Linked DNA regions of Homo sapiens: regions 1 and 2 are each linked to region 3. Evidence: fine-mapped expression QTL. A gene starts in region 3. Each other region holds a variant in brackets. All regions are shown on one strand. Distances are from middle to middle.

What was found. PIP is the estimated chance that this variant, and not a neighbour inherited with it, causes the effect. A credible set is the group of variants that fine-mapping cannot tell apart.
Region 1: its variant is the best candidate, but not a certain one, in a credible set for the expression of ZNF175 in thyroid (GTEx, PIP 0.61).
Region 2: its variant is the best candidate, but not a certain one, in a credible set for the expression of ZNF175 in whole blood (TOPMed, PIP 0.88).

The regions. Positions count from the first base shown.
Region 1 is chr19:51,597,539-51,605,718 of GRCh38, forward strand. It overlaps the pseudogene LOC339352. Among named protein-coding and RNA genes, the nearest start is that of LINC01530, 7.2 kb to the left of the region's middle. The variant A/G (reference allele first, on the strand shown) is at 4,422.
Region 2 is chr19:51,543,857-51,552,036 of GRCh38, forward strand. It overlaps the pseudogene SIGLEC28P. Among named protein-coding and RNA genes, the nearest start is that of SIGLEC6, 16 kb to the left of the region's middle. RefSeq lists an enhancer at 2,156-2,205. The variant C/T (reference allele first, on the strand shown) is at 4,671.
Region 3 is chr19:51,566,500-51,574,679 of GRCh38, forward strand. It overlaps ZNF175 (zinc finger protein 175), which reads left to right and starts at 4,784. Exons shown (of 5, transcript NM_007147.4): 1 at 4,784-4,976; 2 at 6,651-6,902. The coding sequence starts at 6,831. RefSeq lists an enhancer at 4,446-4,505.

The sequences.
Region 1 (8,180 bases), 31 kb after region 3:
AATACACAGTCATATGAAATAATTCCACACATTGTGGTAAATCCTAGAAGCAGCGTGACCTGCTCTGAATGGCAAGGATGTGACGGCAGTAGTGCAGGCTGGAGGTGGTGGTGGCTTGAGGAGGGGGACTAAGCCTGGGGAGTTTTTATGGGTTCACCAGACAAGTGGGACGAAGGAGGTTCGATGGGACAGTTAGAGTCTTGGCTGGGTGGGGAGGGATGAGGTAGGAAAGAGAACAGTTGGGGGCCAAGGATGAGCCAACCCCATCACTGACCCCTCCCCTCCCAACCTCTCTGTGTCTTTCGGGGGCCACAGAAGCTTAGGTGGATTCTGATACCAGAGCGGGGTTAAGTTCAGAACTGGAGGCCTACACACCCTCACCTCAAAAATAGGTGCAACCCCTGCTAGTCTCCCTAGAGGTTGATCTAGCCTGCCTGTGTATGTCCTTGTAAGACACAATCAGGACCCATTCCTGGAGACAGAATGCCCACCCCGACCCCTGAAAGTGAAATCCAATTGGTCTTTTCTGTATAGCCCCCTTCCCTTGAACAGAGCATGACCTCCCTCTGTCCTTAAGAGTCTCTGACCCCTCCCCTCCCAATCTCTCTGAATAGTCAGTAATATCTACCTTCTGATCAGGGCTGTAACATGGGTGGCCTCCTGGAAGTTGTTACAACTGGTCCTTAATAGACGCCCTCACCCCTTTGGACAGGACACGATCTAATTCTGGGTATAACCTGCTTGTTGCTCCCTCTTTTTCCCCCTGAAATCAGCTTAAGTTCCTTCTCTTCTTGGTGCATAATGGGTGCAGTCCAGGAAGCCTTCCTGGAGGCAGTGGCCTTCTTACACCAGAACCCATTTATAACCCACGTATATAAGAGCAGCAGCCACAGCTGCCCCTGGTCTATTCCAGGCAGGGGCACTATCTAGGGAACTCCTCAAAGGCAATGAAACATGTGTAACCCGCCTCCTCTCCCGGTCTAGGAGAAGCTGTCCCTTCTTGCAATGCCCGCCCCGTCATGTGCCTCCTGCCACGTGGCATGCGCCTCCCTCCGCCGTCCATGCTCGGGCCAAGTGCTGTGCGGTTCCTGCTTCTGCACCGCCTTCGAGGCGGAGGTGCAGCACATGGTGCTTGTGGGCTACCTGCTGCCGCCAGGCGCAGTGGTGGCCCTGGGCACCTCGGGCGGCAAGGATTCCACGGTGCTGGCACACGTGCTGCGCACGCTGGCACCGGGCCTGGGCATCTTACTGCAGCTCATGGCTGTAGACAAGGGCATCGGGCGTGGCTTAGCGGGAGGATCCCAGTAAGGAGCTGGGGAAATACGCATGTGCCTATTTAGGGCCGGAGCCTACTGAAGGCTCATGTGGGTAGTACGTGTGGCTCCCTACGATGGAGTAAGGCAGGTTTTTCAAGCCTCTGGGTCTCTGACATCATCTTAGTGAGAGATGAAGCTGGCTGGGCTTCTGGGTCAGGTGGGCACTTGGAGAACTTTTCCGTCCAGCTAAAAGATTGTAAACACACCAATCAGTGCTCTGTGTCTAGCTAAAGGTTTGTAAACGCACCAATCAGCACTCTATAAAACCAGACCAATCAGCACTCTGTAAAACCAGACCAATAAGCACTCTGTAAAATGGACCAATCAGCGCTCTGTAAAATGAACCAATCAGTGCTCTGTAAAATGGACCAATCAGCAGAATGTGGGTGGGGCCAAATAAGGGAATAAAAGCTAGCCACCGAGCCTGCAGCGGCAACTCATTTGGGTCCCCTCCCACGCTGTGGGAGATTTGTGCTTTTGCTCTTCACAATAAATCTTGCTGCAGCTCGCTCTTTGGGTCCGCACTACCTTTATGAGCTGTAACACTGCGAAGGTCTGCGGTTTCACTCCTGAAGTCAGCGAGACCAAGAACCCAGGGGAAGGAACCAATTCTGGACACATTGGTACACACATTGGCAGGTAGAGGGGCTACCTTGTAGGAGCTAAGGCTGGAATACTCTGCTATCATTATTATTATTATTATTATTATTTTGAGATGGAGTCTCACTATGTCACCTAGGATGGAGCGCAGTGGTGCAGTCTAGGCTCACTGCAACCTCCGTGTGCCAGGTTAAAACGATTCTCCTACCTCAGTCTCCTGAGTAGCTGGGCTTACAGGTGCCTGCCACCACACCTGGGTAATTTTTCTATTTTTAGTAGAGGGAAATGACTTTGTATCTCCCTTCACAAAGAGAGATGTGAAGAGGTGTCTCTCATCGAAAGTCACACAGTCTGAAATGCTACTGTGTCTCTTAACTCCTTTTCTTTATAGGTTTCTCTCTGACAACTCTTATTTTCTCTCAATGATTACTTCAATAAGTAATCATCGTCCATTGACTAAATACCAGATACAAGCTGTGTAGCCTAGAGCAAATTACTTAACCTCCGTTTCATCTTTTGTAAAATGGGGATGTTAATAATATCTGGGTCCTTGAGTTGGGAATTAGATGAGTTATATATAAAGCACTCAGACTAGAGGCTGAAAAACAGTAAACATGATGTAAATGTTTGCTGTTATGATGATCCACAAGAGCACAAGACAGTCTCTGCTCCTGCCTGATTCTCACGAATGTAATTATAACCTGACGAGTGCTACTACGGAAAATTACACAGAATGTGTGAATTTATATCAGGGGGTACTAGTGGCGGGGAAAAGGTGGGGATTAAGGAAACGTTTCCTGAGTGAACTGAGACCCGAAGGCTCAGTGAATAACCAGGTGAAGGATGAGTTGGAGTTTGGGCGGGGGGTGTTCTGAGCTGAGGTCACAGAGAGGCAAAGGCCTTGAGGAGGGGAAATATGACCAACTTGAGAAGCCCGAAGAAGAACAGCATTTTAATATACAGACTCAAGTATAAGATGACAAAATGCAGAATAAACGTAGTTTCCATTTAAATTGTATGGCGACTGGTGTGTATGTATTCATTAACTTTCTTTCTGGTCTTTGTAAATCGCGTGATCTGCATTCCCAGAGACACTTGTGTCTACAGCTCTCTTGAGAATCCCCATTAGATGGCCCTTTTTTCTCCTGTGTAGTCTGAAATACAGTTTTAACTGAGGCTGAAATGGTGTTTGCAGCTTAAAGCACTTTTACCCGCTATGTGGAAAGAGAGCTAGCGAAGGGCTTGGTATACAGTAGGTGGATGGCAAATGAGGGCTCCCCCCAAGGAGCTTGTTTGTGTTCCCTTCAGGTTTTCTGTCCACCTCCAGTCTCCTTCTGGTTGCTCCATGGTGCCCGGGAGTCTCCATGGTCCGGTTTCCCCATCAGTATCTGTTCCCCCTCCCCCTGCCCCTCTCTGTCTTGGGTCCTGGCGGCCCCGCTGTGCCCTGGGTCTCCCTTCCCCGTCTCTCTCTGGGTCCTGGTTACCCACAGTGTCCCAGGGGTCTCCATGGCTCTGTCTCCCCCTCTCTGTCTCTGGATCCTGGCTGTTGCACATTGTTCGGAGGTCTCCATGGCTCGCTCTCCCCGTCGCCGTCTCTCTCTCTGGGACCTGGCGGCCCCACTGTGCCCTGGGTCTCCGTGGGTCTCCCCTCCCAGTCTCTCTCTGGGTCCTGGTGGACCCTTGGTTCCTCGAGGGGCTCCCTGGCCAGCAGCGCCCTCCGCGCCGCACCTCACCCTCTCCCGTCTCTCCCCACCAGGTCACAACGCCGACGACATGGTGGACACCGTGCTCATGAACTTCCTGCGGGGCGGCTGGCCCGGGGCGGGGGCCTGGGCTCTCCGGGCTAGGGGGGTGCCCTTCCGCGCTGCCGCCCGCTGCAGTTCGCCTCGCAGGAGGTGGTGCCGTACGGGCACTTCCGCCGCCTCGACTACTTCTCAGAAGAGAGGAGCGCCCGGGACCTGCTCAAGCGCCTGGAGGCGCCGCGGCCGTCGGCGGTGCTGGACCTGGTGCACTCGGCCGAACGCCTGGCGCTGGCCTCGGCCGCGCGGCCCCCGCGCCCCGGCGCCTGCCCCCGCTGTGGGGCGCTGGCCAGCCGCGCGCTCTGCCAGGCCTGCTCCCTCCTGGACGGCCTGAACCGCGGTCGGCCCCGCCTGGCCATCGGCAAGGGCCGCCGGGGGCTGGACGAGGAGGCGACGCCGGGGACGCCCGGGGATCCGGCCCGGGCCCCCACTTCCGAGACCGTCCCCACCTTCTAGCGACTCCGGGCCTCCCGCCGGGATCCGACGCGCCCGGGTGAGGTCTGCCTGTAAATGACACTGTGAATAAACCCGTTACCTTACCTGGCCTTCCATGTGAGGTGGGAGGGGGATGGGGGCCCAGTGACCTGAAACCCTGAAGCTGGGACCCCAGACTTCGGGGTCTCAGGGAGGAAGGGTCTCGAGCTGGCCTTCTGGCTCTGAGGGAGGAGGGGGCTGGGGGGCCATCCTAGGTCTGAGAGAGGAGAGG[A/G]CCAGGACTAGGGCTAGAGGAAGTGGGGCTGGGGACCCCAGGCATCTGTGGCTGAGGAAGGAGGGCCTGGGGTCGTGGACTCCTGGATCTCAGGGAGGAGGGGGCTGAACACCTTGTGATTCCTGAGCGAGTGGGGGTTGGTTGGGGACCTCCTGCCCAGTTCTCTGCTGGTTCTGGGTGCGCTCAGCATGGTCCTGACCCTCCTTGAGCACCAGATTCCTGATGTTTCCTGTTTGCCCGCAGTGGGGTAAGCGGAGTGACGTGACTTGATGGACACACGCCATTCACAGCCCCCGTCACGATGCCTCCCTTCCAGCGCTTCGTGTGCAGCGCGTGCTGCACCCTCATTTCGTCTCCTCCACGGCCTCACTGGCAGTAGCCTGAGCCGCAGTAACTGACCTGGGGGCTCCCACCAGGTTGGCCTGGCTCCAGAGCTGTCAGAGATTTTGGGATTGCCTTTCCCCCATGCTATCCTGTCCTCATCCATCACCACCTGAATCTCCCTTGCCGTCTCTTGTCATAGGTAAGGAGGGGCTGGTGGGCTTTGCAGACCTCTCAAGCTCTGAAGGCAGAGCTGCGCGAGCCTGAATCGCCGCTTAACTCTTCTGACCTTCTATTTCCTCCTCTGAAAATAGAAGCAACCCTCCCTCTCCACTCCCCCGACATCAGGGTACTCTTGGGAGGATTCAGTAACTTGGTTGTTCATATTAAGGTTTGGCCACCAGGGAGCTTTTAGTTTCAGGATTGCTGCTCAGCTGGTCCTGAAAGGAGTGAGGCCCAGAAACTTCCTGCCTAACCTGTGGGAGATTTGGTGTTCTCAGTCCCACCTCCGAGCTTTGCTGGCTTGCCTCCCTAGTCAGGAATGCCTTCCCTTTCCCATCTGCCTGCTCAAACCCTCCAGGGTCCTTACAGAAAGAGGACCTTCCTGATTCTCCCCTCCCACCCAGTCCAGGGCGTAGGGATCTCCCAAACCCCACCCCATAGGTCCCCCACCCATAGGTCCTGTCCTGACTCTGTGGCCTTCCCACCGTTTTGGGTTATGCTCTCCCTAATTAGACTGATCATTAAGGGCAAAGACCAGACCTCTCTCCCCATCGGACAATAACAGCATTATTCATCCAAGAAACACTTATTGAGCACCTAATGTGTGCAGGGGCTGTTCTAGGCACTGGTGAGAGAAAAAAGACAGAGTCTTTCATGGAACTTAGGGCCTTGTGGGAAAGACACCTATATAATGTCAGATAATTAGTGCTGTAGATAAGAAATAACATAAAGGGAAAAGGTGTAAAGAGCTGTTATTTTAGTTTGAAAGGCCAGGGCCTCTTTGAGAAGGTGACTTTGGGGCAGAGATCAAACAAAGCAAGCGAGGTTTCTAGCCATGATAGAGAAGCTAATGTCAGAACAACACTTCCACACTAAGACTGAGACCAAATGGAAAAACAGTACACACATACACACACAAAAACAATCTGATGACATTGGAGAGCTACCAAGTTGGCCAGGATCGCAGAGAAAAGGGAAGCTCATTCTCCTGGAGGGGCCAAAAGGCTAAGGAAGCAAGCAGAAAGCAGAGGATAAGAAGATGGGAACCTGAGTTGAGCTTTCAGCAGTGTTATGGCTGGGGCTGGAGACAGAAATCATGGTGGCCAGGTGCAGTGGCTCATGCCTATAATCCCAGCACTTTGGGGTGCCAACGTGAGAGGATCTCTTGAGCTCAGGAGTTTGAGGCCAGCCTGGGCAACATACAGAGACCCTGTCTCTACAAAAAAAAAAATTAATAAAATTAAATAAATACAAATAGATCATGGAGCCTGGTGCTACCAAGGTAGACAGGACTTGAGGGACCAAAACCCTGGAAGGAAGGGAAGATCACTGAGGTGAGCCCAACATGTTTAAACTCTCCTCTCAGCAGTCTGATGGAACTGGGTAAGCCAAATTTGATGTTCCGGGTCTGATAAGGAGAGGCCCAGTAAACACCCCAAACCTTCCATTAGAACTCAAGAAGGGTTACAGATTAAAAGTAAGGGTCGGCCGGGCGCAGTGGCTCACACCTGTAATCCCAGCACTTTGGGAGGCCAAGGTGGGCGGATCACGCGGTCAGGAGATCGAGACCATCCTGGCTAACACGGTGAAACCCTGTCTCTACTAAAAATACAAAAAATTAGCCGGGCGTGGTGGCGGGCGCCTGTAGTCCTAGCTACTCAGGAGGCTGAGGCAGGAGAATGGCGTGAACTCAGGAGGTGGAGCTTGCAGTGAGCTGAGATCGCGCCACTGCACTCCAGCCTGGGAAACAGAGTGAGACTCCGTCCCCCCCGCCAAAAAATATGGGTCAACTGGGAGTAGACCTGCCCACAAAAAGACCAAAACCCATCTTCAAACTCACTCAGCCTGGGGCTGGCTTAAGGGATCTGTCCCTATTCCACTTGCCAGAAAGCAAAAATAGGGTAGCCCTAGCCACATGAGCCGATTTATCTTTAAATTAATTAAAATAAAATTAAGGATTAAGTCCTCAGTCACCCTAAACACCTTTCAAGTGCTCCTTACCACCATATTGAACAATGCAGACACAATGCCTCCATCGTCATGAAAGTTCCATCGCACAGTGCTGTTCTAGACTGTACTAGAATCCAGAGGAGGAAAATTTCAGTCAGAGCTCAAAAAAATCTCTGCAGTTTTTCAAACAAAATACTAGAAATTCAACTAAAAATTAAAAAGTTGACAAGCATGCCAGGAGATATGACAAAATTGTTGAATACCAAGAGGCTGGGCATCAAGCACAGATGTATTTACAGGTGTTCTAGATATGAGTTTTAGGTATGGACTTTAATTGTCATCACGTAAAAACAGATGCTAAAATGGAGAGTTTCACCATTGTATTGGATTACATTTTTAAAAGAACCATTAAAATTGTGAATGTGATTAATAATAATAACCAGGCAGAATGGAGTAACTAGTACCAGACTTACCCTCCTGCTGTAAACAACTATAAAATAGCATAATGTATTAGGCAGTTTTCCCTGCTTTGCTCCACATGCAGGCCATCTTCCCAATTGCCAGCCCTGGGGATGACCAACACCAGCCTCAAATCTACCACCACCTGCTTGGCTGTGTGCTTACAGAGGTAGTAGCTACGCAGGCAACAGTTTTCCATAGAACTTTCTGAGATCCCCCTTTGGGGGTCCCATGGTAACAATGGGCATACTTGGCTTTTCATATATCCCTGCACGCTCTGTCTTGCCTACCCACACCTGTTCTTCAATGGAACTGCTTAATGATGCTCTCATGATCATCCTGCCTTCTCCAAAGCATCACTTTCCAGCTCTACCACATTTGCATTAAGTTCTAGGTCCTCTAGTGAGCGCTCTATTCTCATAAAACTCTTGGCTGCTGTTTCCCTGGCCACACTCTTGTCTGGTGGAGTGATGAAAACCTATGGAGATAATTTTAAGCTCTGGGTCACATTATCCTTCTTCAGGGCATATTTACTGTTGCTTGTGGCAAGCCGACCACTTCAATTTGATCAGATATTGAGGAAATTTGGTCTGGCTTTAATCCTTATGAGGTATCATCTAGTTCCAACTCATCCTTACTCTACAAGGTCCCAACCACAGCACTACAGTGTTTACCATGGCCCTTTTTCCTTGGCAAGCCCTCAGCCATAACTTTTATCATTCTATCCCCATGAGATTCAAATGTTCTACTTAGCTTTTCAGTCTATGCTTGGAATCAGCAACCTGTTTCATCCAAAGGATTGGGTTG
Region 2 (8,180 bases), 23 kb before region 3:
ATGGCCATATTTTTTCAAAATTAGAAAGAACATATGACCCAACTATTTTGCATTTAAGAACTGATTTCACAGGCATAGATGTACACTTGTGGCAGTAGATACAAGATTATTTATTGCAGTGTTACTGTTGGTAAGATAAAATTAGTGCCATGATATTCCATTAGGCACAAAATCAGAGTCCACATTTTTGATGCCACGAAATTGGAGTCCATCCACACAGTGGAATCACCCACAGTACTGGAGGAGAGTAATGTCACTCTGATGTCACTACTGATGTTAAACCATCACTGAGATCCTTCGGGCAAGCAAATCAAGGCGCAGCGCAGCCAGGACAGACACTGGCGGATTCTGGGGAAGGGGACGGGTGTCTGAGGGTAGATTCTACTGTGCACTCTGAATTCTCACCCATGTGACTATATCATCTGTTCAGAAGAACTTAGATCAGGACTACTGGGGAGAATAAGAAGATGAGGGAAGAGGAGTATTCAGCAGGTGGGGACTCAAAGCCTGGATCTGCTATGTGAATGGCACCCTGCCCTTGTTATGGGGCCAGTGGGAGTTGTGTGTGGAAGAGGCCAAGGGGAGTGAGGGGAGGATGGGGACAGGTGCTCAGGTGGCCTTGGAGACTAACGATGGGGAAGACCTCTGTTTCACTTACAAGAGGGTCTCAGGTTACGAAGTTGAGTCCAGGAAGAAGCAGTAGCCCAGCCCTGCCCCAAGCTGCAGGCCCTGCTCCCTCAGCCCCAGGGAGGGGGCTCTGTCCTACCTGTGCCGTCTCCTAGAGAGACACCAATCCTTGGGTTCCTTAGAGCATCTAGAACAGGAAGAGAGAATTTCCCTTTCTTTGGGGTGGAGATGAGGTAAAAGTAGGTACTCCTCCCCTACCCCAGAAGCCACAGGAATGTCAAAAGACAGAGCTTGTGTCCTTCTAGTTCCCCTGCTCAGCCAGGCCTCCAGGACATAGCCACAAAGTGTCCCCTGCCCTGACCCTCCTCTACCCCCTACACCCTCAGGAACCCAGGCATCCTGGCCCCAGCACTCACAGGAGACACTGAGCTGGATGGTTCTCTCTGTAGTCACACCAGCTCCAGGGAACTTCACCTGCCAGGTGAGGTTGGTGCTGTGGTCCTGGGGCCATGGGGTGATCGTGAGCACTGAGGAGCCGAAGGTCCTGGAGCCCAGATGCAACAGGGAGACCCCCATTCAGAAGAATGTGGAGGGGGCTCCTCCCATTCACAGGCCCAGAACACATAGCAGGTAAGGTTCCTGGTGTGACTGGTACCCCAGAATCCCTGGGATGAAAATGTTGGGCTTGTGGGTCAGGGCTGGTGAGGAGAGAGAGGAGCTTGGGGACCCTCTGAGTGTTATCAGCCCACCCCAGGGTCCTTTCACGCTGTCGGCATGCCACCACCTCTAGAAGGAGCAGAACCTTCATTGCTTTATTTCTGGTGTCTGGGCTTTTAACATACTTGTCATATTCCAAGAGAGCATCCTACAAGATATGAATGTTTCCTGAATGGTTTCTCCTTTCTGAAGAGTCCGTGTGGGCTGGGCGCAGTGGCTTATCCCTGCAATCCCAGCACTTTGGGAGGCCGAGGCGGGCAGATCATGAGGTCAAGAGATTGAGACTATCCTGGCCAACATGGTGAAACCCTGTCGCTACTAAAAATACAAAAATTAGCAGGGCATGGTGACGGGTGCCTATAATCCCAGCTGCTTGGGAGGCTGAGGCAGGAGAATCTCTTGAACCCGGGAGACGGAGGTTGCAGTGAGCCAAGATTGTGCAACTGCACTCCAGCCTGGTGATAAAGTGAGACTCCATCCCAAAAAAAAAAAAAAAAAAAGAAAAGAAAAGAAAAAAAGAGTCCCCGTGTGTGCCTCTGATGCTCAGGGAGAAGTTGCTGGTCTTGAGGTCCCTGGGCAGGAGGAATTGGTCCTGGGTCCTGCCATGAAGCATTTGTCCTGGTCACTGGAGGATTGTGGTCTACATCCACCCCTTTCTGGAACCAGCACAGGTGGAGGGTTCCATAGTAAGTCCAGGAGTAGGGAAATTTCTGCAGCCTGAGGACACACAGGCCCTTCTGCACCATCACAGGTTCCTGGAACTGCAGCTGTTCCAGAACCTAAGCCAGGAGCCCTGGAGTGAGGAAAAGACTAAGCCTTGGGCTCTGGAGCCTCCTGAGTGGGGGCTGCTGTCCCCGCAGCCTATGCAGGGTCAGCAGCAGTGGCATCTCTGCCTCATACCCAGGGGCAGACCTCTCTGAAAGGGAAGGGAAAGCTACAGGTGTGGGACAGCAGAGGAAGCTTGTGGTGAGAACAAGAGGTGACCAGCCCAGTAAAGGGAACTTCAGACACACAATGAGTCCATTGTAATTAACTCTTTAAGAAAACTGAGTTCCATTTCTGCATGTTGCTCAGACAAGGCAAGAGGCTTGCCCTAAGTAAGGCAGCAACGAAGGACCGGAGTCCCCAAGTCCTGCCTCCTGGACTTGTGCACAAGTGACTGGAGAAACAGGTGCCACCTGGCCAGTTCCCCATGAATCACAGGCGTGGGACCCCCACAGAGGTCAGTCTCCTAGAGATCAGCACCAGAGGCATGAAAGGGTCCACGTGAGGTAAGAGCAGCAACACTTCATTCATTCCATGTGTGCATTCATTCTCAAACAAAAGTAAAAGAGACAGATTTGCATCATTCCTGACGCTCAACTAACTCAAGTAGTCCTGGAAGACAGAAACAATGATGGGCTTGAGCTTTCTCCAAGGACAATAGGGAGTCATGGAAGGTTCTCATGCAGAAAAGGGTCACCATAATATATACATGTCAGATAGATCCCTCCAAGGCCAGACTGCAGGCTAAGGGCCTAGAGAGAAAGCTGTTGCGATTGTTCGGTAAGGAAGAACCATGCCTTCAAGGAGAGAGTAATGTAGTGAATTCTTAGAATTGCATGCGACCTCAGTGTCCTTTTGAAATACCAGAAGCGGGGCTCAGTCATCCTTAACAACTTCCAGTTCTAAACCACACTCAAATGGCTCAAGCTGGTGGCCAGAGATAAGAACTTAGACAGGCACAGTGACTCATGCCCTTCAACCAACCCCAGCACTTTGGGAGGCTGAGCGGGTCGATCTCTTGAGTGGAGTTCAAGACAGCCTGGGTAATATAGAGGGACCTCATCTCTACAAAAAACAATAGGTAAATAAAAGAACCAGCGGCATCTCTCCTGTAAAAGCAGACTTGCCTTCCTGCTTTTTCTGCTGCTACCTTTAAGGGAACCACAGATATTTACCCATGAACTTAAAGTAACCACACCCGATTCCCTGAGAGGTACTGCCAGTTGCCGTGTGCTTTTCTTTCTCACTCTGCCTGACTCCTCATTCCTGACTCGGGTGACCCAGGGATGGACTGGGTCCCCCCACTAATTACTGCCCCCCCTCCACTCATTACACCCTCATTGCCTGGAGTTTATAAGTAAAAATCTTTAAACATATTTCCTAGCTTGATGGTGCATTGAACTTGCACCCTCCACCTGAAGAACTGTGGCTACTCTAGGCTGGGTTTCCCCCCAGGACACCTGGGAGGGTACAAGGGTGGACTTCCAGTGCCAGGGAAATGGTCAGGCAGGCATAAAGTGAACACGGGTCAGAAAAGAACCACAGGGGCATCTGTAGCTTAAACAAGTTGCCCATGTGAGGCACCCATGGTCATGGGTCAGACAACCAGGCATTAGATCATCCTCCACGTAAGAGAAAGATCCTGTGAAATGTACGCTGTAGACACCACGTCCAGCTCTCCTTCATTTCCCATTAGGGCAGGGTCATCAGCCACTCTGGCACTGAAGCCCCAGTTTAGCTGGGGACTCTCAAAACAAGTCACCTTGGTGATTGAAGAAAGAAGCAATTTGAGACATTTTCAGAAAGTGGACTTTGCAGGGTTGGTGGTGGTGCATGACAGAGCAGGAGCACCATCATCTCAGACTAACACTGCCACTTTAAGTTCCAGCTCCCTTTCTAGCCTCGTGCATTTCAAGGAAATCACTTATCTTCTGACAACAAGCAGCCGGAAAGAGCAGACAGTGAAACACAGATAAGACAGCTCAGGCATAAAGGGATGTCTGAGGGGGAAAAGTCTCCTGGGTAACCACCAAACTTCACACTCATACAATGGGCCCCAGTAAAACAGTGGGCCCTAATAAACACATTCCTTCCCCTTTAGGTACACTAAGATAGGGAAGCTAAAAGCAGACTCAGGGGGTATGCCTGCAGCTGCAGGAAGACGTATGGGATTAGACACAAAACTCTCCCTCCCAGGTAAGCAAGACAAAGAGACACAGAAACATTCTGAGCCTGTGATAAGCTGTACCGCCCTGAATCCTTAAAAACTCTTAGTCGGTAAAAGAGAGTGCCTCTGACCTAACTCAGCCAGAAGCCCTTCTCAGGTTTAGTCTCCAAAATAAACCTATCTTTAACTGTTCAGCTGTTTTTTGTGTTTCCTTCTTCTTTCTTTAATTCTTATAATGCGTGAGAGAGGGGAGCATCTGCAGTGGCTCCCAGAGCCCCGACTCAAGCAGCAGGGACTTGGGGGTGTCATGGCAGAGAGCTGGTGAGATGAACCGTCAGGGCTTGGGGGCAGGTCTGGGCTGGAGAGGGAGGGGTAGGGAGTTTCACAAAGCCTA[C/T]TGGGGTTGTACTCAGGGGAGGTGGATGTGTTCACCAAGGGGAAACAGAAGGCCCCAGTGGGAGGGGTGGGGAACACACAATCTTAAGCTTAATTGTGGGCTGGGGAATGGCTGAGATGGCCTGGCCAGGGAGGTAGGAGGAGAAGGAGCTGCACATTGGTGACAGCAGTGGTGAGAATTTTATCAGGGATGGGTGGGAGGGGCAGACTGCAGGGGGCAGCGGGGTGAGGGGGAGTGGGACTCATTGGGATGTCTTCAGTCCTCTCCTGTCGGAGCTCTGGGCCTCCACTTCTGTCCTGAGCAAGCAGCAAGCCCACCTTCATCACGACCCCAGAGGGAAGGTTTTTTTCCTACCTGTACCATTTCCTTGGGTGGGGCCAATAGCCAGATTCTGTGGAGAATCTGGCATCTGGCATCTGGAATGGAGAAAGCCACCATTTTCTACCACCATGCGGAGGAGTATGGCTGCTCTGCCTCTTTGGCTAAATCCATGGAAAGCTGCTGAGGTGGGGACTGCTGTGATTTCTCCTCCCTTCTCCAGTCGAGCTCCTGACCAGGCGTTGAATCTCTCAGGCCCTGAACCCTTCCTGTCCATCCTGGCAGCCCTCAGCCACCCAGGTGTCCTGGCCAACATCCAAGGGGGATGCTGAGCCTGGTGGTATGAGGAGCTCAGCTGGGCTGTGAGAGAGAGCTGTGCTTCAAGGTGGCAGGATCACCGATTAAAGCAACAATAGACCAAACTGAAAGAATGAATCAAGCCTTTAATCACAGACAGCAGTGATAGAGGCAAGAGTCTAAACCAGAGAATGCACCAACTCTTCTTGTTTCATTTCCTGCCACCCCTCTGGAACAGTGCACACTGCTGGAGGGTCAGGTGGCTCATGGATCAACACAGACATAGGGGTCGGGGTCCTCTCACTGAGGAGGGAGCCCTGAACAAAAGGCTCAGGCAGTTCCACAGACCCTGGGAAGGGTGGGGGCATGAGAAGGGCTAGGAGTGGAAAAGAACTGAGTACTGAGTCAGAGTGGGGAAACGTGTCTTCAAGGTTCCTCCTCCTGCCCCCCGCAAGGTGGTCTCAGCAGAGGCATCTGTGGAAGACCTCTGTCCAAGGCCTCAGAAAACGAGGCCTAGAAATAAATGTAACTGGGATAGAAATGCAAATATGCATAGCGCATGACTGGCCAGAAAGGTGGGGTCCTTGACCACAACCGAGTGTGAAGAGGGTGGAGTCTCCCAGTGAGGCCTGCCAGGAAAAGCCTTTGCAACTGCCTGTGATCGAACCTGAAAAGCCACACCTAGGTTTTTAACCATGTGCTGGACTCCTCAGATAGTTCTACCCATGGATCTACCGCTTCCTAGGAAGGTCACCTGGCATGGAGGCCTGATGCCACAATCTTGGACCCTAGGATACAGGGGTACACTGAGGACTTGAAGCGGGGGCTTCAGAACCCCAGGAAGAGAGGTGCATCTTCCTTCACAAGCCCCTGGCATGGTGCTGTTTAGACTCCAAGATGGCTGGCTTTAAGCTTAAAGGGATATAAATTATGGGTATCTGATACAAGCTACAGAGGAGGAGAAACTCAGAGGGGAGACCCCAGAGTGTCAGCCTGGGGTTGGCCTCCCCTGCCCTCAGCCCCAGGATCCTGCACCTCTCCCTTACTCTCCAGATAAGAAACAGGTATGTTCCTGCCTCTGGGGCTCTCTCCTGGGGACCCTTCTCTACTGGTCACAGTCAGAGGCAGTGTCATTCATTGGGAGCTATATTTCATGTGATATCTCTGACCTAGAGATGTGTTCCTACTTTCCTGCATCTGGAACATCTGATGCTCTGAGAGCAACTGTGGGTCCTTGGGTCTCTGAGGAGGTTAGCTTTGCCCCAGGTCCTCTCTTCCAGGTTTTTCTTTTCTTTTCTTTTCTTTCTTTCTTTTTTTTTTTTTTTTTTTTTTTTTTGAGATGGAGTCTCGCTCTGTCACCCAGGCTGGGGTGCAGTGGCACAATCTCGGCTCACTGCAACTTCCACCTCCCAGGTTCAAGCGATTCTCCTGCCTTGGCCTCCCTAGTAGCTGGGATTACAGGCACCTGCCTCTACACCTGGCTAATTTTTGTATTTTTAGTAGAGATGGAGTTTCACCATGTTGGCCAGGCTGGTCTAGAACTGCTGACCTCAGGTGATCCACCCACCTCGGCCTCCCAAAGTGCTAGGATTACAGGCATGAGCCACTGCGCCCAGCCTTCTTCCAAGTTTTGACAGGGCTTATTTGTGGCCACAGGGGGATTATGGTGTCTGTGGGCCCCCTCTGGGATCCAAAGGTGGGTGTGGACTGGATTAAAGTCAGTCCAGAAAACCCATGGATTGGACTGGAGAATGAAGCTGGGCACAGAATGCAAAGGTTCCCTCTTCACCGTCACTGACTGAAAGGTGAGAGCACAGCCGGCTGATTCTCATGGGACTGCTGCCGGGAAGCAAGCTGTGGCTGCAGCCCGACTGAGCAACCTCTTCCTCAGGCCTCTGCTGCCCTCACAGCTGGGGCAATGGCAGCAGCGGAAAAGGATGTTCTACATTCCGCTGACACCATCTGATTTGTTGGGAGCCGAAAAGGCCAAAGAGATCGTGACCAACTCAGCATTCCACTGGAGGCTATATGATCAAACAGCAAACTGTTTATCATGAATACAGGATGTGAGCAAACTCACGACTGCACCTGCCGCCAGAAGGTTTGCTGAGGGCGGTCACTCCCTGGCGCCGGCTCCTTGAAGTTATCTTCTGGGACATCTAGGGCCTACTGTTCAAGGAATACAGTCTTGCAAGCCTACTCTAGATGGAGCAGCTGACCTCTTCTTCCACCCCTCCTTCTCGCTATCTCTTTTGCCTAATAAATATGGAGGGCTGTGTAAAGTTCAGGGCCCTTGTCCACTAGAGGCAAGGTGCCCCCTGACCCCTTCTTCCAAACACATTCTTTTGTTCTCTTGTCTTTGTTCCCGCGTTCGTCCCCCTTTGTTCAGTCCCCCAAGGTCCGTGCAGTTTACAAGCGGTGCCCCGAACAGTGACAGGATTGGGCAGTCTACAAGTAGCACCCCAAACAGTGAGAGAACTAGGCTGTCTTCACTGATTAGCCTCTCCCACTTGGAAGTGGGCACAACCTTGGAGTGATAGATTCTCTTCCTGGATTGAATGTATTGTTCCTCTCCCAAATTTCTGCCTTCAGCAAACGCTACTTTTGCCCTCAGACCACTACAGGGGAAATGAAAGCTGAGCTCTCCTCTCCCCTGACCACAGCAGGGTGGGACCTTCCTTCCTCCTCTTCCTCACCACCTGAAGACCAACCCCCACTTCCCTCAAGAGAGATGTGGAGTTTCTGGGTCTGTTTTCCCCAGTTGCTTTTCTTGGAGCCCCTTGCATAGGGTCATAGGAGAGTGAGACTGAGACTCTCCTAAAATGGAACCCTCTCTGTCCTCAGCTCCAGCCGTGGCTCCAGCTCTGGCTCCAGACTTAGGTGAGCTCTTTGGGT
Region 3 (8,180 bases):
CACCCATGAAGACTATTCTTTATTCAAGAGAGACATGAAATTGGGGCAGAAGTGTGCTGAGAAATATTTAACAACTGGATTTCCAAAAAATACATATTCATAATAAATTTTACTGATATAAAGTATTTGTAGCACACTGTTGAGCACTCAATTTGTCGCTGTTCGGGGTGCCACTATGTAACTCTCATGGACCTAGGGTAACTGAACAAAGGGAGGTGAACGTAGGAATAAAAGACAAGAGACAAAAGAGCATGTTTGGAAGAAGGGGTCAGGGGGCACCTTGCCTCTAGTGGACAAGGGCCCTGAACTTTACACAGCCCTCTGTATTTATTAGGCAAAAGAGATAGCGAGAAGTGGGGTGGAAGAAGAGGTCAGCTGCTTGGTCCAGAGTAGGCTTGCAAGACTGCATTCTCTAGATGTCCCAGTAGATAACTTCAAGGAGCTCGGCGCCAGGAAGCAATGGCCCTCAGCAAACCTTCTGGCAGTGGGAGTAATTGTGAGTTTGCCCACATCCTGCATTCATGATAAACAGTTTGCTGTTTGATCATATAGCCTCCAGTGGAATGCTGAGTTGGTCACGTCCCACGGGCCTTCATCTCCCTGCAGCACGTAACTTTTAAATAATAATAAAATGTACTATACTTTTTATTGTAAATTCTACATAATCAACTGATTCTCACAGAATGTTTTCACTGATTTTTCTGAACTTTTGCAACTTGAGCTAACTTATAATGGCAATTGATGAACAGTACACTGTGTAGTTATGAATGTTGGTTGATATTTTCATTTACATTAAGGAGTAAGATAAAACAGAAATAATGAGATGTATGGTGGGATTTTATTCTTCTGTCAATGACAGGAGTAAACTCTTTGTTTAATCAGATAAGTTTTGGAATATCTACACTAGAAGAATATTTCTGAATTTTTGTGCTATTTACAGTGTAATGACTGCAGATATTAACATCTTTTAAGTTGCATTATTAATATTTTATTCATCACTATATCAAGCGTAGACAATCAATAAAATGATAAATCAAGACTTGATGGATAGTATTTGCCAATTTCTGCAGTGTAAACACTTCTATCATGACTGACTTCAAGCTACAAATGTGACTCGTGTAAAAATATAATTTCTGATTATTTCCGTAGAAGATATTTTTAGCAGAAACTGGATCACCTTTTCAAGAGAAAGTAATATGTTTGCAAGACAAAGATGAGTATTTACAAACTGCTTTCAAAAATGGCTGTAACAGGCCATGCACAGTGGCTCACACCTGTAATCCTAGCACTTTGGGAGGCCAAGATGGAAGGATTGCTTGAGGCCAGGAGTTTGAGAAAACGGCTGAAACAGTGTCCATTTCCCCAATCTTGAATGAGAGTAACCATTGCCTCTCTCGTTTCAGGAATTATTAATTTTTCCAGTTTTGTTAATTGGCAGTTTGGATAGTCATTCTAGACACAAGAATAAAGGAGATCACACTCCTGATTAAAACCTGTCAGTGACCTTCATTCCTCCAGCCAAAGCCCTCAGCCATTTTCCCACATAAACCCTAAGCAGACTAAGAATCTCATTTTCATAGGCTTGGCCAAAGTTTGTCTTCAGGCCACATGCAATTTCCAAGGGCTCCTCTTCCTTTACTTCTGTGGAAGGTGCAATATCAGAATATGAATGAATCAGAATGATGTTCTTAGAATCTTAATATTGGATCCATTTGAACAGATCAGTAATTGAACTTTGGGAAAACTTCAGCACACTTCCTTAGCATACAATTTCTTGTGATGCGAATCACAACTGTTAATTTGTATTTTGCTTTTGAATCCTATATCTCAGAGTGATGAAGTCTCTTTTTACCAGAGGTCTTAGAATAGGTTTGCTTAAAATGAGATATATGAAAGAAAAGGGTCATTTTAGTCAGTGGGCGAGCATTTATCCTTAGCTATAAATGAAGGTGATAAACAGTTTCATTTCTGTATATAGAATGGTCTGTTCAATACTATATTTTTTGGGTAAAGTTTCTTTTAATGCTCTTGGTTGTTTACTTTCTTTGATTTCCAGGAAAAAAAAAACAGGCACAATTGCTATCAGATATTTTGAGGGCAGGCATCTTGTTGAGATCATTATTTAATAAGGCGTTGAGTCATGAAGGCAGTAGACTGGTTTGAAGTTGGCCAGGATGAGAGTTCTTGGCATAGTTTAAAGCAAAGCATTTGAAATTCTGAAGTCCTCATAAGTTGCAAACAGTTGTCTTTATTTTTTGAAGCACTTTAATTTTGAAGCACTTTTATTTAAGTTTCAAGAACCAGAATTGTTTTTCTTTTTCTTTTTTGACTTTCATCTGCACAAGACTTTTTGTCTTTATTTTTTGAAGGCTTTTAATTTTGAAGCTCTTTATTTAAGTTTCAAGAGCCAGAATTCTCTTTCTTTTTATTTTTCTTTTTTGACTTTCATCTACACAAGATATATGAAGATTCATAGTCAGAAAGTTTTGTCTGTCTTCTTGAGGAATAGCCAACTCCAATCTTAAAAAACTCTTCTAGAATGTCATAATCAAATTTTTAAACTTCTAAAGATTAGAATAGATGAAATAAAAAAGCAACCACAGACTGGAAGAAAAATGTTTGTGATATGTATATCTCTAAAAGACTTATTTTTAGAATATATAAAAAATTTTCACAACACAATAATTTTAAAACACAATGAAAAATGGGTGGAAGATTTGAAGAGTTGCTTCAGCAAAGAGGATAAATGAGTGGCCATTCGGCACTTGAAAAAATGCTTGATCTGGGAAATGCAAATTAAAATTACTATGAGATACCACTATGAGATACTCACTAAAACATATTAAATTAAAAAGACTAACAATACTAAGTATTGATAAGGCAGTGGAGCAACTAGAATTACCATGCATATGATAAAAGATAACTATTAAAACACCAACTCTCACCCTAAATAAGGAAAATTCAGGAGCATTCTCATTTGAATCAGAAACAAGACAAGGATGCCCACTGTCACCACTGTTACTTGACATTATTAAAGAGGTTATAGCCAACAAGGTAAAACCAGAAAAATAAGCAAGAAATGTAAAAATTAGAAACTGAGAAATATTTCCAGTATTTGCAGATGATGTTCAAGTTCCCATAGATTTTAATATCATAATCTAATAATAGAGATAAGTCCCATAACTTTTGCCATATTCTGTTGGTAAGAAGCAAATCTCAGGTTCCGTTTGCACTCAAAGGGATGGATTTGTACAAGGTGTGACTCAGTAGGTGTCACCTTAGGGTATGCCTGCCCCACTAAGAGTATGAGGGCGCAGTTACCCCTCATCCTACAGATATACAGATGTCCCAGTGGAGGGACGCCTTAACTTGCCCTGAACATACACATGCGGGGCTGTTGTACTTAAAGCCTCCTACTTCTATCTCAATTTTCACTCTCTGCATTTTCCTTTTTTTAAATAAAATGTACCAAAGCCGTAGGGTAAATCCTATGACACAGTAAAGAATAGTCTCAGATTTATAAGTGGAGAAAATTCAAAAGTTCTAAGTCCGGGGAATTTCTTAGTAACTCAAACAAAATGTCACACTTTCTCACATAATAAAGATAAGTGTTTTTATTGATTTTACACTATTTGCTTACAGTAAATATATAATTGATGTTTTAAAATAAAAGCAGGTTTCATGCTTCATGTAACAAAGTTAGGTTCAGATACTAATGTGAAAACTCAACTATTCCTGGGAAACCATGTTCAAAAAAATGCTTCATTGGCTAAGCAGTCTTATTTTATTATTCAAATGGACTAAAAATGAGGTATGAAGTAATTAAAAGTAATATGGTGGCTTTAAGTGCAGAGATGGGGTGGCAGAAGCTGTGAACACAGAATGTAAAATCGGTAACTACAAAATGGCACAAACTACGAAAGCAATATATTTAAATTACTATTTTTTAAAAAAGAAGGATCATTTCAGATCTTCACCTTCAGATCCTCACTCAGCCCTGCCTCCTATTTCCCATAATCAGCCATTTTTTTAATTTTATGATTGCTATTACTCACCTTCTAGAATATATTTTTGTTTATTTGATTGAACAACCTCTTCCTGAAAATTCTGCCCAGTTGGGCTGGCTGACATTGATCTCAGTAATTGTGTTTTTTTCCTTTAACTTGATTATATTTTTTTCATTCGCCTCTCTTTAAATGAAGTGTCCCAAGAGCCCTAAATTCTCTCTTCAGGTGGTCGCTTGGTAGGTTACTTCATCAATAGGTTCATCCAGGTATAGAGAGCAATGGTGTAAGGATAACAAAGATACAATTTCTCAGAAAGATAACATTTTCAAAAGTGCTATTAAAGACAGTGAGTTGTTCAGCAATTCAGGAAAAAAAAGTCTTTAAATCAGAGGGAAAAATATAGAGAAAAAGTATTTTTCAGAATACATGTCAGTTTCTCCTAGAAATATATATACACAAGTATTGAATAGGTCCCCTGCCAATGTAGGACCCAAGACTTTTACTCTGTGACATTCCATTTGTCCTTGGCTGTACGGAATAAAAGCCCTTTGACGATGGCGGCCTCCAATATCATAATCCGTATGGGTGCGGCCATGCCGTCCTCCCTACCAAGTTTCTGAAGTTGAATGAACCGCGGAATAAAGGTACGCCGTTATACGCCATGATAACTGTTGGCGGAGCGTAGCTTCAAAAGTGTTAGTGGGCATGCGCGCGGTTCAACAGCGCCTACGGAAATCCTAACGGGAATGTAACCCAAACCGGAAGTGGCCTAGAGCGACCATTTAGCTTCTGTTGTTAAGTGGATCTAAGCCTATGTCGCTTACTGGACGCTGAAGTGATTGGGAATATTAGCAGTGGGGGTTCTGTAGGGTCAGGAAGGGGCGGCTGGCTTTGGGGGAGTGATGAGGGGCTTGTTGGGGGTGGGGGTGCGTGATAAAGGGATTTCTCGGCTGAAGACGAGGCTGTGAGGTGAGTGACGGGCTTGTTTTGGCTGAGCGATGAGGGGTTTCTGGGGTGGGTGATGGGTGCTGTGGGGTAAGTGGCGTTTGCTAATTTTAGTTGGATAATTAGCCTGTTAATTTTCCCTCTTTTCTTGCTTATTTTCTGCTTGTAGTATTTTTGTGACTTAAATTCCAAGTGTACTTTAATATCGGATTTTATATTGGTCCACGAAACTTGCTAACTTGAGGACAGTGAACGTGCATCTTAAGAGCGCCTTTGCGGATGGTGCTGGAGGACGTTCAGGGAAGGGATTCACTGTCCGTGGGACTAGGGGAGTCAGTGATTGATTGGCAGCCAAGAGCTTCAGAGGTTGGAGGACTTTGAGGATCACACTGTAACACTCTCAGGGGACCAGTGATGGGCAACCTATAGGAATCAGTAGAGTGGGGTTGCCAGGGGTAGCCTATGGCAGCCAGTTGACTGGAGGCGTAGGGGGTCAATGATGGGGATTTGTGAGGGTGAATGCATTGCTTTCTAGGCAGTGAGTGTTGGGGTCCTTCAGGGATTGGTGGGTGGGTCAGTGTTGGCCTCTTCTTGGGTCCCTTGGACATGGTAAGGATCAGTAATTGACAGTTGAGCACATCGATGATGGTTTCCTATTGGGGCATTTCATTTGGACCCCTATGTTGGGGATTATTTGTCGTTTTATGGAAACCAGAAAATTGTGCTCGCTGGGAAACATTTCTTGGCTATCAGGGCAGTAAAGATTTCAGAAGCCTGTGCCATGTCAGTGACTGGGAGGCATTTTGGAACTTTCTGGCAGCCCTGTAGTACACTCATTGGGGATTTCTGAAAGTCAGTCCTGTCAGTGATTGCATTCAGGTGCGGTGGGGGCAACTTATTGTGGACAGGCAAGAAATGGTAACTGGAGGCCCTGATGCATGTCTGCAAATTTTCTGTGTCAAGATGGGGATTGGGACAGTGATTTTAAGTTTTAGCTCTAGTCAGAAGAGGCTGGTCTGTGTGTGGTGTATTATGGACGGGGACTGAAAAGTCCAGAAGCTCAGAATAGGTACACCAGACAGAGCCACCTCCCGGCCTGAGTTCTATGAAGGCAACAGAAAGAGGAAATGGTGTTTCTGGAAGCTGGCCACGTATGGGTACATGAGATAGTGGAGACAGTGTACAGTTTAGAACAAGGCAGATGTGGGGCTGATTCCCTGTTTTTCCATTTACAGACTGAGTAACCTTCAGGCAAATTATGTAACAGCACACAGCCTCATTATCCTCATCCTCAAAATGGGTATGATAATGCCCATGATATTTAGCTGACAATTAAATTGACAACTTTCTTTTTTTAATTCATATTTATCACGTGCCAGGCAGGCACTGAGGACTTGACAAGCTTCATCTTGGTTAAGTTTCCCAACATCTGTGATAAATACCTGCATTTTCATTTTGGAAACTACAACTAAAGTAATATTTTCATATTCTCACAGTGAAAATGTGGCAAAGCTGCAATGAATTCACCATTTAGTCCAGACTCAGTCTTTATTTTTAACCCTGACTAATAACTAGAGTTGGGCTTTCTGAACTTTGTCTACTCCAATGTCTGACACAGTGACTTCACCTCAGTGCCCTCAGGAAATATTTGTGGAGTGAATGTTGAATGAGTGACCATGTACTCATTGCTTTTCCAAGGCTTCTGCAGAACCCCCAGGTCAGGCCACATCATTGAGGCTGCAGGATCTCTCTTCATAGCCCAGTACGACTCTCCGCCGTGTCCCTGGTTGGAAAATCCAAACACCTATCCAGCTTCTGGCTCCTGGGAAAAGTGGAGTTGTCAGCAAGAGAGACCGAGAGTAGAAGCCCAGAGTGGAGATGCCTGCTGATGTGAATTTATCCCAGAAGCCTCAGGTCCTGGGTCCAGAGAAGCAGGATGGATCTTGCGAGGTAAACAGGGGCAGCCCTGGGGATAGTTCTCCAGAACGTGAGGGCAGACACAGGATGCAGCAGGTCTGGGCTCCCTGCTCCTGAGTCAGTCTTGAGCCTCCTGTCAAGCGAGGACCACAGAGGCTGATGTTTCCACATTCATAGGCTATCTGTGTTCTAGAGGAAACCATGAACTGGCTGATAAAAGAGGATAGTAGAGGGTTGGCCTTGGGTCAAGAAAGAAGAAACTGTAGTCCCTGGTCTGATCAGAAGCCCCAGTCATAGGATGGAAAAGCTGACTCTTTCCTGCTAAGCACTGGTTCTGCTCCTTCATCCACCACTGGGTCTTTGAAAAATTTCAAGTGGTCCCCCCCACCAAATTCCTTGCTTGGTCCATGGGGTTTGGCCCGTTTTTCCTCTGTTCTCATAAGGTGCGGCAAAATCTCCTTCCTTTGTAATTTAAATAGTCACAGGGAGGTAGAGTGAGAAGAGGCTTTTAAGGACCATGTGAAGAGGCTTTTAAACACTTTTTCCTGTTTAAAAAGGTGAACAAAAAATGCTGGAAAACAGTGTTTCCAGATTGCCCACAGATAGAAATAGTCAGGATTTGGTAACAAGAAATCAGAATTCTTGGTATAGTCAAGATTTCCTGAAATCCTAAATTATTCTGTGTATCTCTTGATGCTTTATTTACAAGTCTTTAAATAGTATGTGACTATAATAGTAAACAGTGTACCATTGTTCTGTGATGGGTTTATAACCAAATTTACAGAGATGTTCTGTTTTTTAAAAAAAGTATAATAAATATGTGTGTTATTATCCTGAACCAATATATTGTGAGATTATATATTTCAGTAACCTGTTAAAATCATCTCAACCTGCTAGAAACATTTGATAATAGAAAGTATTAAAAGAAGGGAACATTAACACAAAATAAATTGCACATATAAATCATTTTCAAAATTGTAAATACCCCAAATATTTAAAAGTCGTTCTTAAAAGAAAAATTGAAACATACAAGTTTAGGTGGGGCACAGTGGCTCATGCACTTTGGGAGGCCGAGGCGGGCGGATCACTTGAGCCCAGGAGTTGGAGACCAGCCTGGGCAACATGGCGAGACTCTACAAAAATACAAAAATTAGCCAGGTGTGGTGGCATGCACCTGTAGTCCCAGCTACTGAGTACGTTGACGTGGGAGGATCACCTGAGCTTGAGGCGGTCAAGGTTGCAGTGAGCTGCAATCATGACACTACACTCCAGCCTGGGCAATAGAGTGAGACCCTGTCTCAAAACAAAACA